Regions from separate parts of the Homo sapiens genome. Here regions 1 and 3 are each linked to region 2. The links come from fine-mapping of genetic effects on gene expression. A gene starts in region 2. Each other region holds a variant in brackets. All regions are shown on one strand. Distances are between the middles of the regions. Region 1 holds the start of CD101 (CD101 molecule). Region 2 holds the start of TTF2 (transcription termination factor 2). Region 3 overlaps VTCN1 (V-set domain containing T cell activation inhibitor 1).

The links.
Region 1: its variant is fine-mapped to the expression of TTF2 in lung (GTEx, PIP above 0.99).
Region 3: its variant is fine-mapped to the expression of TTF2 in whole blood (INTERVAL, PIP 0.98).

What each region holds. Positions count from the first base shown.
Region 1 is chr1:117,000,247-117,006,160 of GRCh38, forward strand. CD101 (CD101 molecule) reads left to right here and starts at 1,514. Exons shown (of 10, transcript NM_001256106.3): 1 at 1,514-1,614. The coding sequence starts at 1,572. The variant C/T (reference allele first, on the strand shown) is at 2,967.
Region 2 is chr1:117,057,856-117,063,769 of GRCh38, forward strand. TTF2 (transcription termination factor 2) reads left to right here and starts at 2,471. Exons shown (of 23, transcript NM_003594.4): 1 at 2,471-2,519; 2 at 2,600-2,702; 3 at 4,532-4,618. The coding sequence starts at 2,492. CD101-AS1 (CD101 antisense RNA 1) reads right to left here and starts at 1,635. Exons shown (of 4, transcript NR_110786.1): 1 at 1,518-1,635. RefSeq lists a silencer at 1,542-1,591 and an enhancer at 2,012-2,171.
Region 3 is chr1:117,158,040-117,163,953 of GRCh38, forward strand. The region is part of intron 2 of VTCN1 (V-set domain containing T cell activation inhibitor 1); the gene reads right to left. Among named protein-coding and RNA genes, the nearest start is that of TRIM45, 39 kb to the left of the region's middle. The variant G/A (reference allele first, on the strand shown) is at 2,362.

The DNA.
Region 1 (5,914 bases), 58 kb before region 2:
GTAGGAGATGAAATCACAGGGGATCAAAGGGGGTTCTTGCAGTCTTCCGTTCCTAAGTGGGATCAAAGAACTGGTGGAACCAGATCACCAGCCTGGATGGTGTCAGCTGGTGCATCAGGATGCAGGGTCTGAAAAATACCTTGAGCACCAATTTAGGTTTTACAATAGTGATGTTATCCCTAGGAACAGTTGGGGAGGTTGGAATTGTGTGGCCTCTGGCTGCATGACTCCTAAACCATAATTTCTAATGTTGTGGCTAATTTGTTAGTCTTACTAGGGAAGTCTGCTCCCCAGGCAAGAAGGGGGTTTGTTTCCAGAAAGGGCTGTTATCCTCTTTGTTTCAAAATTAAACTAAGCTAAATTCCTCCCAAAGTTAGTTTGGCCTACAACCAGGAATTAACAAGGGCAGCTTGGAAGTTAGAAGCAAGATGGAGATGGTGAGGTCAGATCCCTTTCACTGTCATAACTTTCTCACTGTTACAATTTTTGCAAAGGCAGTTTCACAGGGCAGATGAAGATTTACTTAAATGTCTCATGATGGTGATGATGGTAGCTAATATTCATTGAGCAGTTACTATGTACCAGATATTGTTCTAAGTGCTTTAAATAAATTAGCTTGAAACTATCATTCTCAGCAAACTATCTCAAGAACAAAAAACCAAACACTGCATGTTCTCACTCATAGGTGGGAATTGAACAGTGAGAACACTTGGACACAGGAAGGGGAACATCACACACCGGGGCCTGTCATAGGGTCGGGGGAAGGGGGAGGGAAAGCATTAGGAGATATACCTAATGTAAATGACGAGTTAATGGGTGCAGCACACCAACATGGCACATGTATACATATGTAACAAATTTGCACGTTGTGCACATGTACCCTAGAACTTAAAGTATAATAATAATAAAAAAAAGTAAAATACAAAAAAAAAGAAATAAAAAAATAATTAAAAAATTAGCTCATTTGGCATTCACAGTAATCTTACAGGGTACCTACTATTAGTATCCTCATTTTAGCAATGAGGGTTAGGAAAAGTTAATTAAGTTTTCTAAGATTGCACAGTTACTAAAACTAGAATCTGCATGCAAACCCAGGCAGCCTGACTCTAGAGCCTGTAACCTTCAGCACCACCTCATGTCGCCCCAAGTTCATGTTTTTCAGGGGCCTTCTCCCATTTCTCAGTCATTTCCTCTCTCAAGAGAGGAGGAGAAGGAAGGGCCAAGAAGACAACATTGCTGGTGCCTTTTTTATTTATTCAGTTTACCTAAATTCTCTCATCATTACCAAATGACACATACTGTGAGCCAGGTTGAGACCCATCTTTTCTTAGTTTTATCGATATCTGTTTACTTAACCACAAAGATAACTTTTTTACTCCCAAATTTGAGTGATTAGTAAAGAGCTACATAATGTAACCAGTTTTGCTTTTCACAAGACATCTCTATTTCTCAGTGGGCTGAAAACCACACTTTTGCTTCCTCTTTACTTTGCAGTGAGAGCACAGCATTTGTCACTCAACCTCTGAATGTTAGTGACACTATTGGGACGAAAAAGGACTGTGCTGGCCCAAATGGCAGGCATCTCATATGTGGCATCTTTCTTTCTCCTTCTGAGTAAGTTTCATAATCCTTTATGTTTCTCTTGTCACAGGAGTTCATCAACTCAGGGTGCTGAGTGATGGAACAGGACAATTTGGTCTCTACAGGAACAACTATGCCATATATTTCTGATGTTAGCAATAATTTTTGACTTACTAATGACAGTTCTTGGCTTACCTAGACATCCTTGAGTTCCAGGGAGTCACAATGCTTGGTTGAGTCCCATGCACAAGATTCCATTGGTTTTAACATTTGTGTGTGTTGCCAGATCTGTCAGTTTTGCTTGGCCCTGGCTTTACTCATCTTCCTGGGCCGATCATCCCAAGAGACAGTAAAAAAGCTTTGTGTCCCAAACTGAGAGGAGACCTTAAGGTTTGCCTGATATTAAGGCTTGATGGGATAACTATGCCTTGCAGATATGACTGGATGGAAAGAAAGGTTATGAAAGTACTTAGTAGTTTTAGACTATGCTAAAAGAAGGTTCTAGATTTCACCTGCGAGTGGAAGTGGAAATTGACTACTGAGAGACTGAGAAATGAACAGGAAGATTCACTTGGCTCTACTGAGGGCCATGCAGAGGGGCTTGCCTGATCTAGGGGCATTTATCTATGTTTGAATAGGATGGAAGAAGAGAAAATTTGGAGGTAGAAGGGAGAGTCAGATGAGTTGAGCAGGTAATGGAATAGTTTCAAACCAGATAGCAGGTACTTTTTATGCTACAGTTTTCATTAACATCTGGTAAAGAGAATAGACTCCATCTCAGAATAATGTTTAAAATGCATAAAATAAAATGCATAGAATTACAGAGGAAATCAGTCACATTGAAATACAGGTATCAAAATATTTTAAATAAATTATAATGCAGTAATTTATTTGCTTCTTATTTATGCATTACATAACAAAATCTACAGGTAGGTCTTTTAACCACCAAACTTCAAAGTAATGATGAGTATAAATAACATTTCAATATATCTTAAGTAGTTGTAATGTGATATGAAGATATCTGTGGTTGTCTACATACATAACTGAAGAAAATACTAAATTTCCATTAGAGGCAAAAATGAAAATAAAGATGTAAGATTATTTTTCACCCTAGTTTATGGACCCTTTAATCCTACATGTGGACCCAGTTAAGAACTCTTGCTTTATAGCTGGGCATGGTGGCACATACCTGTGGCCCTAGCTACTTGGGAGGCTGAGGTGGGAGAATCGCTTGAACCTGGGAGGTGGAGGTTGCAGTGAGCCAAGATTGAGCCACTGCACTCCAGCCTGGGTGACAGAGTGAGATTCCATCTAAAAAAACAAACAAACAAACAAAACTCTTGCTTTAGAGAGACTGGATGGAGCCAGTGCAGGGACCCGAATGG[C/T]TGGGATGATTGGGGAACTAAACCAAGCTGCATTTGGTGTGACCAGGACTATGGCTGAAGAATTAAAAGAAAAGAATACAGCATTCAGCACAAAGAGGTTGCTTAATAAACATTGATTGAGTTGAATTGTGCTCATGTCTCTAGGTACATATGATAGTGTGAGGTTAAGAGTCAGACCTAGGGCCTGCAGGGGAAGTTACTGGGACCACTTGCTGGGTGACGGATGCCTGCCAGACTGGCTTGGCGGGTGTTGATGGATAGGTGCACTGGTGGGATCCTTTGGGGGCTGGTGTGTTTTTGTTGTTTGGTTAAGTTGTCTGAGTGTGATTCTCAAGTGTATGTGCTTTGTGTATTTGAATTCTATGTTTGCTATGTATATAGGAGGAAACTGGGTTTACATTGTGCAATAATTCATAGAATTGCAAATTCTGTCTCTTTTTTTGGTAAGCAGGCTAGAAGCCCTGGGGGAAGGAAAGTAGTAATCAAGGCTCAAAAAGGGGAAGCTGGAAGCTTTTCCTTAACCCATTTAAACAATTACCTAAACTGGGTTATACATTTACTTCTTCTAAATTCTGACTCATCTGAAGCACTAATTTTGTGTAGAAGCACAGTTTTTATGTGAAGAATACATAAATCAGGAAGTTACTGGAAAAAGCTTTAGAAGTCTGCTGTTTGTCCTTACAAATATAGAGGGGAATTGAAATAAATTATTTAAATAACGATCTATTGATCAATTACATTGGTTAGCAAATTTACACTTTGTCCCAATTTTTTTTTAGTAAATATAAGGACTGAACAATCCTGATAGAAAATGGTGCCATATGAGATTAATGTCATGGGTAAATGAGTTCTCGGATTTAGCAGTTAGCTTTGTCTGCTTGATCTATTTCCCCCACCCAAACTAGCTGCCCTACAAATAATGGCCATTAATATGGCAGGGTTTGGGGGAAGGGCTATTGTCTGTCTTACTGAGTTTGCATTCATGAAAAATAAAAAAGATTCCACTTAGTATGGATGGAAGCTATCTCAGCCTCCAAGCATATAGGGTTTTTGAATGTGAAAAGAGAAAGAAGCTGCTTGTTATGTTGGCTATTCCTGAGGTAGGTTTTGTATAAGGTAGCATTATTTGAAACTGCTGTTTTTTTGGTATAAAAAGTGCTCAAGTATGGACCATTTTATACAGTTCAACCTAATCGTTTTCATTCAAATAATACTGCAGTGGTAAATTTGACAATTCCAGTGATATTTTTAAAGAAAGTCAATACCATCGAGGAATTTTTGGTGTTTTGAAAGCATGATTCTAATGTTAGTATGTCAGTGCCAAGCTTTGTACTCATCAGCCAACAAGAATATGAGCTACTATTCAAAAGTAGCTAACCCTCTACCCATTAAAAGAGAGAGCAAGAGGGCAGTCCTCACAGGTGTTTTTCGGAGGGTGGATGATATGTACTTGAAAAAACCCAGAGAGAATATATTTATAGTAAGATGCTTAAGCTTATGGCCCCAGTGCATAGCCATTTGAGTTGATCTCTGCCAGTCATGCCTTCTACCTGAAAAATACCTTTGAAATCTCCACACTATTTCTTTCACTTTTCTCAGAAAGTAGTATGTCTTAGACTGTTTGGCGTGTTGTAGCAAAAGTACCATAAACTGGGGCGGGTGGGGGAGGGGGGCTTATAAACAACAGAAATTTAGTTTTGGAGGCTGGGAAGTCTAAGATCAAGGCACTGGCAGTTTGGTGTCAGTGAGGGCCTGTTCCTCATAGCACCTTCTAACTGTGTCCTCACGTGGCAGAAGGGGCTAGCGAGCTTCCTGGACTCTTTTACAAGGGCATTAATCCCATTCATGAGAGCACAGCCCTCATGACCTAATTGCTTCCTAAATGCCCCATCTCCTAATACCATCACCTTGGAAATTAGGTTTCTGCGTGTGAGTTTTAGGAAGACACAGACGTTGAGACTATAACACAGCACCCTCCCTGTCATCCCTCTACTAGGACATTACTTCATTCATCCTCCTTGCTGGCTTCACCCATTCTCCATCCCACCCCTTCCTACCGCTCCTCACCTAGCTACTCTTTCTAGCTGCCATCCTAATCTTCATTTTTCCTTCTCCATGAAACTCCTGGAAGTAGGTTCCACTTCCTGCAGTCACTTCTTACCCTGAAAACTGCTGCTTCCACTCTATTGAAATCCCTTTTACAAAGATCTTCATGGACATCCTCCTCATCGAGCTAACAGGAGTCTCCTCTGCCTTCAGAGTCCCCAACCTCTTGGCAGCCTTTGGCAGTGCTGACAAGCCCTTTCCTCTTAGAATGTTCTTCCCTTGATTTCCAGCCGCTGTGTCCTAGTTGCCCTCCATCTAACTCTTCCCTCTGTAAGTTTTGTTCCTTATCCCATCCCCTAAAGAGAGAAATTCCCTAGTAATCTCTCCTTAGTCCTCTTCCTTCTGTTCCCCAATACTTCCCAACACTTGTATGTAACTGACCTAATCTACATCTAACAGTTCAGAACTCTCCCTAGTTACAAACAGACATTTACAGGAGCCAACAAGAAACAATGGGGACAGCCATGGATTTGGCATTTGCAGATCTATTAATATGTTCAAGTCTGGCTCAAATCCTAGGAGTTTTTACATAACTAAATATGGGAATATCACAGGGTTTTTGAAAGGATTCGATTACAAATATTTTCAAAGGGTTAAAGTCTATTTAACCCTTTGAAAATATGTATAATTTATATGTAAATATAAATATCTATATTTAAATATTTCAAAATGTTTGCTGGATATCCTTCCTGTCTATTCCATGGTCTTCAAATTTAGTATTTCTAAAATTAAATGCATTATATTTTCACTCACCCTTATACACACAACAGTAACTCTTCCTAATATCTGTATTTCTAGTCAGAGTATCAATATTCTCCCAGGCAGCCTTATCAAACCTATGA
Region 2 (5,914 bases):
AAACTCTAAACTTTACTCAAAATAGAGATCCATAAAGCACATTCTCCCAAGGTCTCTCCGGGGGTCTGTAGGCTAATTAACAATATAAATTTAAAATATAAATTAAGAATAAAAATTAATACACATACACCAATACATGTGTATATTTTGAAAAGTGTATGTTGTATAATTCATTATTATTTATTTCAATAGGCATAAGTTTTTTTTTAAGAGACAAAGTTTCACTCTGTCACCAAGGCTAGAGTGCAGTGGCACAATCACAGCTCACTGTAGCCTCAAACTTGTGGGCTCAAGCCATCCTCCCACCTCAGCCTCCTGAGTAGCTAGGACCGCAGGTGCCCACCACCATACTCAACGGGCATAAAAATTAATTTTAAAAATGTTTCCAGTTATGACCATCTTTCGTCCAATCTCAAACTTATTTTTTTCAATCTTGTAAATATGATGAGGTGGAATAAGTTGTCCAGGGACTTAACATTTTGATCTAGTATATTTTTAATTTATGGAAGAAATATTCCTCCTGTCTGTGATTTGGCTGTGCACACTTTTGTGAGGTTGGACTGGAGATACCGACTTGGGTACTTGCAGAGGAGGAGCTTCTTCCTTAACGGGATATTTAAGAGGCCCCGATTTTGCCTTGTTTCGAAAATTATTCAAGAAATAATTAATTACCATGCCCCTCTTTCTGCAAATCCTGTATTCATGGTATACTACCTCCAATACAGCATCTATTAAACATGTACAAATACATCATTTGCAAGAATAACAATCTTGGAATAATGAAAATGCTTCTACCTATTTGTTGTTCCTGTCTTATCTCTAAGTTCATCTAAGTTTCGGAAGGGTAGTTATGTATAAAGGAACTTCACTTTGGAAATTCCATTTTTCTCTAGTCCTAGAGAGTTACTGCTAACTCCATTCATTTTGACATTTAAATACTATTTTATATTGTTATTTAAGTGTTCAACATGTACTAGTTCAGTCTCCTCAAAATACTGAGTAAGTTCCTTGTGCTTAGAATAGTTGTTTCAAACTTTGTGTGTGTGAATGAATGAATTTTACATTTCTCAAGCACCTAGTCCACAACGGGCACAAAAAAGCTATTTAGTAAGTACTGTTTAATTAATAAATGATACCTCAGGTTTGTCTCCCTTCCTCCGGATCCCCATAACATGTACATTTATCACATCGCCCAGATTTCCTAGACATTACAGATTTTCTGTTCTACGGCCCCCATAAGAACAGTGCAGGTGCCACACCATATGTCTGGGACATATGGTCCTCAATAGCTGCAATATGAAACTATTTCTATTGCAATAAATCTAATATCTATTCCTCTCTGTTTACTAATAGTTTTGATTACAACTTCAAATTTTAAAAATCGAGGATGAAGTTAAATAGAAGGGAACTGTCCCCTTTCTTCTATTTAACCTCGTCTTCGATTTTTAAAATTACAAAAGCATAATAGTAAAAAAAAGTTTGACAATACAAAATGATAAAGTAAAATTCGCCTTCACCAAAAGTCATCTATTTCCCCTTCTGTGGTTTCCACGTTGCGGCTGGTAACTCGGGGCTTCCACGCTGGGCGAGCCTAGAGAACATCCAGTACACACAGGAAGCAGCAGCGCGGGCCAAATGGCGCTGAGACCTGCGCACCTGTCCACGGACCGCCCACTCGCCAACTCTGACCTTGGGTGAGTCTCTCAAACTTGAGTCTCGGAATCTTCCACAAAATGCTACCCATCTCACCAGGTCGAGTGAGGAGGGTCGTGTTATGTGTAAGCACTTTGTGAAATCTAAAGCACGAGGCAAACGTAAAGCATTGTAGGGGGTCCTAGAGAAGTCTTTGTGCCTGCCTATCAGAGCCGTTTCAGTTCCCCGCAGCAGCTTCCAAGGACCTCCCACCATGCCCGCCGCTTCGGCTCCTGCACTGCAAATCTCGCGGCTCGGCCTGCAGCGGCGGCTTCCCCTGGCCTCCCACCCCAGCGACTGAGCGCGGAGCCCAGCGCGCACGAGCGCCAGCCTGGCTCAGAGACACCCACGAAGCCAGGGCCTTTCAGCGCCTGCTAACTGGCGCTACCCCTAGGGCCGCCTCTCGGTTTTAAACGTAAACAAGAGTTGCCCTTCCGTCTTCCAAGACCTGCAAATCGAAGCTTCTTTTCCTCCAGAAGCCCCGCCACCTTCTAAGCTTCTCCCCAGCCTCAGCCACGCCCCAGCCTGCAAAAGCCGGGTCCTTTACGCCCCCTGGCTCCGTATTTGATTTCGGCGCGCGCCATACCTGAGGGCAGCTGTGATTGGTTGGAGGTGAGCGAAGTTCCTATATGATTGGCTGATAGCGGCTAGGACGGGTGAAGGCCAAGGGCGGAGAATTATGGGAGGGATTAAGACTGCAAGAGCTGAGTGATGGTTGGTTCCTGAACAAAGAGGGCGGAGTAAAAGGCGGAAGCAGAATTGGGGGCGGGGCTTTGTGGAACTTGGGGGACCCAGCGAAATGGAAGAAGTTAGGTGTCCAGAGCACGGTAAGGGGCTAGGGTCTCAGCGTCCCGGGGCCTGTTGATTTAGCGTGGCGTAATCGTTGTTCACTTTCTTCTCTCTTCAGGGACTTTCTGCTTTCTTAAGACCGGCGTCCGCGATGGCCCGAATAAAGGAAAGAGCTTCTACGTGTGCCGGGCAGACACGTGCAGCTTCGTGCGGGCCACCGAGTAGGTCTGGAGCTGGGCCCCACTCCCTGTGGCTGCCCGGGGCCTCCCGAGAGGAGCTTCCCGCTCCCCGCTGTCGGGCGTCACAGGGCCGAGGAGTGGTGGGGCCCTAGTTTGCGGTGTCAGGACCCTTTAAGCAATTGGTGATCCCAGGGCAGCGTGGCGTGTTCGGAAGACGCCCAGCTAATTCTGGCTGTGTGACCCGAGGCTGGTTACCCCCCTCTCTGGGCCGATGGTTCCCCTACCTGTAAAATTGAGGATCCGGTGTTTTCCAGCTCTGGGTTTCTATTCACTTGACAGGCCTTAACCACTCCCTTCTCCTGCCCAGACAGTCCCTCCCCCTTTAAAGGAGTAAGGACACACAGCAGACATAGTGGAAAATAATTTGTCCCTGTTTTGCACTAGTTTTAGGCCCGACGGTTTTTTTTAAATGTTTGAGCTTAAAACACTCTAGTGATTAGTTGTTAGCCTTCTTATTTTTAAGTAGGATTCTCTGCATCTAAATGGTGAAATTGATAATTCAAAGAAATTAGCGCTGGAAGAAACAACGGAGGGCCTGGCGCGGTGTGTGACGCCTGTAATCCCAGCACTTTGGGAGGCGAAGGCGAGCGAATCGCTTGAGCCCAGGGGTTCGAAACCAGCCTGGGCAACATGGTGAAATCCCGTCTCTACGAAAAATTAAAAAAAATTGTCTAGGCATGGTATCACACGCCTGTAGTCCCAGCTACTCGTGAGGCTGAGGTGGGAGGAGAGAGTCAGAAATGTTAAGCATCTTCTCTAAAGTGAGGAAAGTTAATAGTTTGTCAAGTGTTAATGTTTTCACAGTACCAAGTGTCTACATTTTCTATGTGAATTTTAAAACTATCATCACATCATTAAACATCTCCTGCTCTCTATTCAGCAAAACTTGGTAGAGAAAAGTTATTTTTCTCCGTGTCAGATGTAGAGTACATAATGGATATCAGTATTAGAAAAGTGCCCTTTCAACATGTATACTAACTTCCCATGTTTCTGTTTCATGAGTTAGATGATTTACACTGAGCCTCTCAGATATAGTACCCAGGTCAAGTTTTGTGAGATAGAAGCATTTTTACCTTTGCAGGAATTCAACATTAATGGTGGCATAAGATTTGGTTTTACATTAAGAGAAACACTCTTATTTAGGATCCCATCTACACAAATGCTTTGCTATACAAACTAGCACAGTGGTATTTGAAGACAATTATTTGATAAACTTGATTTATTTGGACTATATCTGATAACCAATATACAGGCCAAAAAAAGTGCCACAGGTTTAGGAGAGTACTTTAAACCTTCACTCAAACCTGTTTACTCTCAAATGTTATATATATTTAAATTTTTTCATAATAAGTTGGAAGGGAGTGATTAAAAACTTACACAAAACAAGAAGCATATAGGGCGTATTGTTAGAGGTAGGCGTGTGAATAACACTAAGTGACAGCTCTCAGCTTGTTAGAGGGAAAGGATGAAGGGAAGAGCCTGGGGAAAATTCATACAGGGCCTCACAGCCAGCCCTAATTATGTCATTCGTAGGGGGATCCCAGTGTAGAGATTACACAGTGCAGTGTGGTTTTAAACTTTTGAGTCATCAAGAAACAGTTATGCTTTATTTGAGAAAGTGGGTAAAGATGAAAGCTAGGGACTTCTTCCCCAAAGGAATGCCCATAGCTGTGATAATGTGTGGGAATTACAAACCCAGTAGAGGTTATACATAGATTCTTGGTGTAAAAACCCATAGTTTTGATTTGACTTTAGGATATTGATCTCTGTTCCTGACCTAAAAATGTTTTCAACTTTTTTCTTTTCTCTAGCATTCCTGTTTCCCATTGCTTATTGCATGAGGACTTTGTGGTAGAGCTTCAGGGTTTGCTTCTGCCACAGGACAAGAAAGAATACAGGTAAGGGTCCAAAAGGAACATCTAAGTGTATTTGCTTTTTTTTTTTTTTCTCCCTGAAAGAGTTGTAGCCAGGTATGTATTAGGATTGTTCTTTAAAAGTCATTTTAAAAAACAAAATTTGTATATGTATTAAGTGTCTTTTGGCTGTCACTACCTAAATACCAAGCAGCTAGTTAATCTGAGAAGTCTGATTTCTAGTAATTTTCACGTAAATGGCTCCACAATCATCCCTCTCCAACTGTCAGGTAGCCTATAATGACAGCTGACCATTGGCCACTAACTTGCCCTTAACTTGTCAATCTTCTAATTCTGGTAATAGAACAAGGTAGTGAGTAAAAATGGCTAAACATATTTAGTCCTCAATAAATGTTAGTTTCTTTTCCTTTATATGGGAATTTGGGAAGGGCAGAGAAGTCTATAGAGCTGGGAGATATTTGTCACGAGTATTCAAAGATAAAGTAGGAATTCCCTAAGTGTTAGAGAGAGGTCATATTTAATGGACTAATATATTGCATTAGAGTACTAAGGCATGAATTAACATGGCATTTTCAGGGAAAATTTGATTTGTTAATAGTTTAACATATCTTTAAACAGAGACTTTAGGCGATAAGGCTGGCCAGGAAGGTAGGGGTCAGGATGTGATAGATGGTCTTTGTGTGATATTCTATGCACTTCATAATTTATATATTCTAGATCCCCCCACCCAATTAAAGGCATTTGAGTACCACCTACAATTTTTATATACCTGAGTACTGTTCATACTTCTATTTTTCTTAATTTAGTTATATGTATAGTAAGATACACAAGTCTTAAGATTTCAACCAGTTGAGTTTTGAGAATGCATGTACCTGCTCATAAAACCAAGATCCGAGTCAAAATATTACCCCAATAAGTGCCATCAGTCCCCTTCAAGTTAATTTCACCCCTCCCATCTCCACCCCTGTCAGCAATCACTGTTCTGATTTTTATCTCTTTAGATGTGTTTTGATTGTTCTTGAACGTTATATAAATGAAATCCTACTGCATGTACTCTTCTGTGTCTGACTTCTTTTACTTAACAGTATGTGAAATGTATATAATATGTATCAGTAATTCATTCATTTTTATTGTGGAGTTGAATTTCATTTATAAATGCACCACTTTGTTTGGTGTGCCTATTTGCCATCAGAAAATCTCGACGTTATCTGTTTAAATATTTTATCCTTTTTTTTGCATTGAAATTTTTATCAAGTAGTTTTAGATTCACATACAGTTGTAAGGAATAATACAGAGTTATCCCCTGTAGACTTTATCCAG
Region 3 (5,914 bases), 100 kb after region 2:
CACCCCTGTGGCTTTGCAGGGTGCAGCCTCCCTCCCAGCTGCTTTCATAGGCTGGCATTGAGTGTCTGTTGCTTTTCCAGAAGAACAGTGCAAGCTGTCAGTGGATCTACCATTCTGTGGTCTGGAGGACAGTGGCTGTTTTCTCACAGCTCCACTAAGTGGTGCACCAGGGGGACTTTGTGTTGGGGCTCCGACTCCATATTTTCCTTCTGCACTGCCCTAGCAGAAGTTCTCCATGAGAGCCCCACTCCTGCAGCAATCTTCTGCCTGGGCATCCAGGCATTTCCAGACATCTTCTGAAATCTAGGTGGAGGTTCGCAAACCCCAATTCTTGACTTCTGTGCACTCACAGGCTCAACACCACATAGAAGCTGCCGAGACTTGGGGTTTGCACCCTCTGAAGCCATGGCCCAAGACCCTTTTGGGCACAGCTGGAGCAGCTGGGATACAGGAAACCAAGTCCCTAGGCTGCACACAGCATGGGGACCCTGGGCCCGGCCCACAAAACTATTTTCTCCTAGGACCCCAGGCCTGTGATGGGAGGGGCAGCCATGAAGACCTCTGACATACCCTGCAGACATTTTCCCCATTGTCTTAGGGATTAACATTCAGCTCCTCATTACTTATGCAAATTTCTGCAGCCAGCTTGAATTTCTCCTCAGAAAATGGGTTTTTCTTTTCTTTCACATTGTCAGGCTGCAAATTTTCCAAACTTTTATGCTCTGCTTCCCTTATAAAACTGAATACCTTTAACAGCACCGAAGTTACCTCTTGAATGCTTTGCTGCTTAGAAATTTCTTCCACCAGATACCCCAAATCATCTCTCTCAAGTTCAAAGTTCCACAAATCTCGAGGGCAGGGGCAAAACATCATCAGTCTCTTTGTTAAAACATAACAAGAGTCACCTTTACTCCAGTTCTCAGCAGGTTCCTCATCTCCATCTGAGACCACTTCAGTCTGGACCTTATTGTCCATATCACTATAAGGCTTTTGGTCAAAGCCATTCAACAAGTCTCTAGGAAGTTTCAAAATTTCCCACATTTTCCTGTCTTCTTCTGAGCTCTCCAAACTGTTCCAACCTCTGCCTGTTACCCAGTTCCAAAGTTGCTTCCACATTTTTGGGTATCTTTTCAGCAGTGCCCCACTCTACTGGTACCAATTTACTGTATTAGTCCATTTTCACAGTGCTGATAAAGAAATACCCGAGACTTGGAAGAAAAAGAGGTTTAATTGAACTTAACAGTTTCACATGGCTGGGGAGGCCTCAGAGTCATGGCGGGAGGTGAAAGGCACTTCTTACATGGCAGTGGCAAGAGAAAATGAGAAAGATGCAAAAGCAGAAACCCCTGATAAAACCATAAGATCTTGTGAGACTTATTTACTACCATGAGAACAGTATGGGGGGAACCACCCCCATGATTCAAATGATCTCCCACCAGGTCCCTCCCACAACACATGGGAATTATGGGAGTATAATTTAAGATGAGATTTGGGTGGGGACACAGAGCCAAACTATATCACCTACTTTAAAGGTTTCTTGTGAGGATCAAATCAAATGGATATTAACCTGATTTGCAAACTGTAATTACACATATAAGGTATTGTTATTCTCAGTTAACCAGAAGTAGCACAGAAGTGAAATCTCATGTTAACTAAATGTGGCCTAGTCATTCTGAAAAATGCTGAATTCTAAAGTGCTGTAACTTTTATTTCTGTTTGAATGACATAGAAACTAAGGCAGTGAGAAAATAACTGATTTGATCAAGTTTACAGTGCTAGCTATAGCATAATGAAGAACTGTATTTAATTCAGTTGATTTTTGGTTTAAAATGAAAGCCACCCTCTCCTCTACTGACATACCACCAGTAGAAATATTAATTATGTGCCAGCTGTATCCAACTGCTTCCTCCTCACTTGGCCAGCCTACAGCCTACCCAGTCAAGGAAGGATCAATCAGCTGTTCATTGTACACTGGGGGCTGCTGACTGAGGACACCTATTGGGGTGATTTAATTAACTGAATCTTCTTGAGAGGCTCTTTCTGTGGCTTGGATATGAAACTAAGGGCAGATGGCCTTGGAGCCCAAGAGGAGAGTGGAGGAGACACAAAGAAGTATGGGGGAGAGACCATGGGAGAGAAAAATGGAAAGAGTCTTTCATCCCCAGAGCTGTCTTGGATCCTGGGGTGTTCAGGTCTAGTTCCTGTCCTAATCTCTGCACATCCTTTAAACAACACCTGATATTAAAGTGGCCTGCACAAGTCTCTCTTTCTTACAGCCAAAAAAGCCCAACATAACGGGTCCTGAGCACTTCCTAACTGGACTTATCAGCTTCTTTATTGGTATTTCTACCTTTCATCTTC[G/A]CCTCCATCCAATCCATTTTACATGCATTAATCCTACAGGTAGACCTTCTTACAGTACAATTTGAACATATCTGTTTTCTAATCACTCATCTTTAATGGTTCCTAAGAGCTGTGGAATGGATTTCAGATTTTCCAGCCTGGACTTCAAAGCTAAACACTGCCTGCTACATAGTAAATGCTCCATACATATTAGCCCTTATTGCTGTCTTTGCAGCCTTCTCTCCAACTACATCCTTTCATAGTCCATTCTGTCTGTCTGTATCAAATTATTTGTTGATTTTCTGCCTTAAATAAAAAACATACAAACAAAGCAGACGTGTTTGTTGTTGTTGTTGTTGTTGTTTTAATGTGAGAGGTAAACATTATCAACATAAGGATATCCTTGGCTCTTCTCCTCTTCCAGCCTATTAGGGGTTGGAATTATCTCATTGACTCCTAGACCTCTACAAAGTAAATGAGGGTAATGAATGAGGAAGAGAACTGGAGAAGCTAATCTAGATGGATTTGCAGCAGAAAGAACAGAAGGCTACTGATGGAAGAAAAATTATAGCTAGAAAAGGAGGAAGAGGAGACAAAAACAAGTACATAGCCTGGTTTGGAAGGATGTTTTGGAGGCTTGAGAGCGTGAGAAAAGACACTTTGGAAGCAGCTGCCATGCATGGCCATTCCTGTGGGAGATCTGGGAGACGAATTATGAAAGAGGACAAAATGAAGTTTTTGCTGTGTAATAAGAACACAACACACCTCCATTCCCTGCATTGGTATTTTCTTGAACATTGATTTAAAGATTCAGTTTGCTTTGCAAGTATTGTTACTTAGAGAATGATATCCAAGGCATCCCAGGCTAGCATGGGTTACACAATTACACTATGCGCCTTCACACTGCTGTTCATCTTGTACCTATTAATTCATAGCTCACACTTCTTTAACACCAGTTATGCAAATTCTACTTATATTCAAAGTCCGTTCAGATGGCAGCCCTCCCATGAAATCCTCTTTTAATTCACCAAAGGAAAAATTAGTAGATTCTCTCTTTACTTTCCTGTAACTTTTTGTCTTTTTGGCCTTTATTATAGCAGCTGTCTCCCTCTACCTGGTCTCTAATCTATCTCTGGAACTAGTTTGTGAGCTTTTCAAGAGCAGAAACTGTCTTAATCCTATCTGTAAGTCCTGTAGTGCCTAGAGCTATGTTTCTGCAGAGAAAAATAATGTTTGCTGAGTTTATGAATAAATGAATAAATAAATGGAAATCAGTAGAAATCAAAGCATTGTTTGAGATAGGCTAAAATTATTGTAGGAGTAAGGGACGTTTGGCAGGATTACCACATCTAAACTTTGGGGAAATGTGATCCAATGAAAAGGAAGGCAATAAAAATACTGAGAGGTTCACAATAAAATCATGAATCAAATACAACTATGTTACAGCAAAGGTAAATTTGATGGTTGTTGATAAAGTGCCATTAAAGTTGAATTGAAAGATTACTTCTCAGAAAAAATACATGATTAGCACAGTTTATGGAGAGAATGAAATGGTAATGACATACCTTAGTTCAGCAACTGTATTACTGAATTAATTTTAATATGTTGGCCTTGAGCTCACAGTTAGGGAATCCGTTGAAATATCTCCCAGAGAAGTTAATGATTAAAAGTAGGCAGCTGTGGAATGCCCTAGGGACCTGCTGCAGGTTCTAGTCATTTAAGGTTGCATTAATGATGTGGCAGATGGAATGAGTGTAATGTTGATTAAATCCCCTCCACCCCAATGTCAAATAAAGAAGAGAAATAAGAGCCAGTGAGAACTTAAAAAAACCACAGGGACCTAGCCATTGCTTTGCACCCAGAAAGCAGTCAATAAAATACTTGTTTGTTAAGTGAATAAATGATTGTTAAAAGTGACAAAATTTAATTTGCAAGCAACCACATGTAAATATTACTTCTCACAAGAAAAGAAACTATTCAGACTTGCAAACAAACATAGGCTCAAGGAGGATTATGCCATCTGGCCTCCTATGACTCTCCAGGCCTACTGACCACCAGAGATTCTTTTTTTTTTATTTTTTGGAGACAGAGACTCACTCCACCAGAGATTCTTGTGTGACTTGTTGAGTCAAAGGACAAAAGGACCCCATGGAGATGGGCTAGAGGCAGGTACCTATTGATAGAGAATTCTATTAAATGGGCACAGATTTTAAGCATTTCATTTACCTCTAAGATTTCATTAAACCCCTTTAAAATTGGAAGACTGAGCCACTTACTGAAAATTAATTATCCAGCTTGTGAGGGCTAATTAACTACCACAGCTCCTGTCTGCATGAGGAAAGTGGGGCTGTTAAAGCAGGGGCAAGACGAAACCTGAGCAGCTCTGGGTTCACACAGTGGGAGTACTATTCAATCAGCGCTCCGTTGTAGGAGTAGGAATATCTTGAAGTGGGGGTATAGGTAACACAAGACAAGGATTCTTTACAGAAACTATGATGCTGGGGCAGCCCACAGCGCTGGATAAAACCTGGAAAATGAGCTGTCCTTTGAAATGACTCAGAAAGACAGGTTCGTACATTCCAGTAGCATAGAGAGCATGCTAGATGTCTTCAGCAGATGGTCACCAGCATCTGCTAAAACTCAGCTGTCCAGATGGGCACCACAGTACATGGCTTACAAGGTCGAAATGCAAAGCTTAACCTTGGGGTCAAACCTGTGAGTGTCACTCTTGCCAAAGAAGACGGTGGGGTGGGGAGAACAGTTGCTTCCGTGAGAAGAAATTTAAAAGGACACTGGGCAAGGCCAGATACGGGAACAATGTAGGAAAGCAGCAGAACATGGTGTTTGAGAACATGGCACAGGTACAGGCTGCCTGGGTTGAAGTCCCAGCTCTGCCACTTATTGGATATGTGACCTTGGTCAAGTTTTCTAACCCTTTATTTCACCATTTTTTAAAATCTGTAAAATGGGGATGCTCCCTTAGAGGGTTCCTGAAAGGACTTAATGATACAATGCAGGTAAAGTGCTAAATATTGTACCTGAATTGCCACATGCTAAACCTTAAATCAGTATTGATATTAATAACCATTATTAACTACAATCATTTGGAAAGATTGCAGATCAGAGCCCCAGGAGGTAAGGAAAACAACATTTCACTAAATGTTTGCTTACAGAGACTCATTTTAAGCCATGAGAGAGTAAGAATGACCATTATACCCATTTATGGATGAGGATAGAGACTCCATGAGGTTAAATGGCTTGCCGAATGCCTTGGATCTAGCTGTTAGTAGAGTCAGGGTCAAACACAACCTGGTCTGGCCCTGAGCCTATGCCCTTTCTACCATATTTTGCTGATACCCAGGGCCAGATTGAGACATGTAGAGTGCCAACCCAATAAGAAGATATCCCTACTTCACTTAAAAATCAAAACAACTAAAAACCACAAAATAAGTGTAAGAAAGGCCCACAGCTGTTTATTTTCTCAGATGACTCGAAGGTTTTTTTGGACAGATCAAATATTTTCTAAATAAACTGTGCAATGTTTCCATTTTGGTGTTATCAGCACACACCTAGT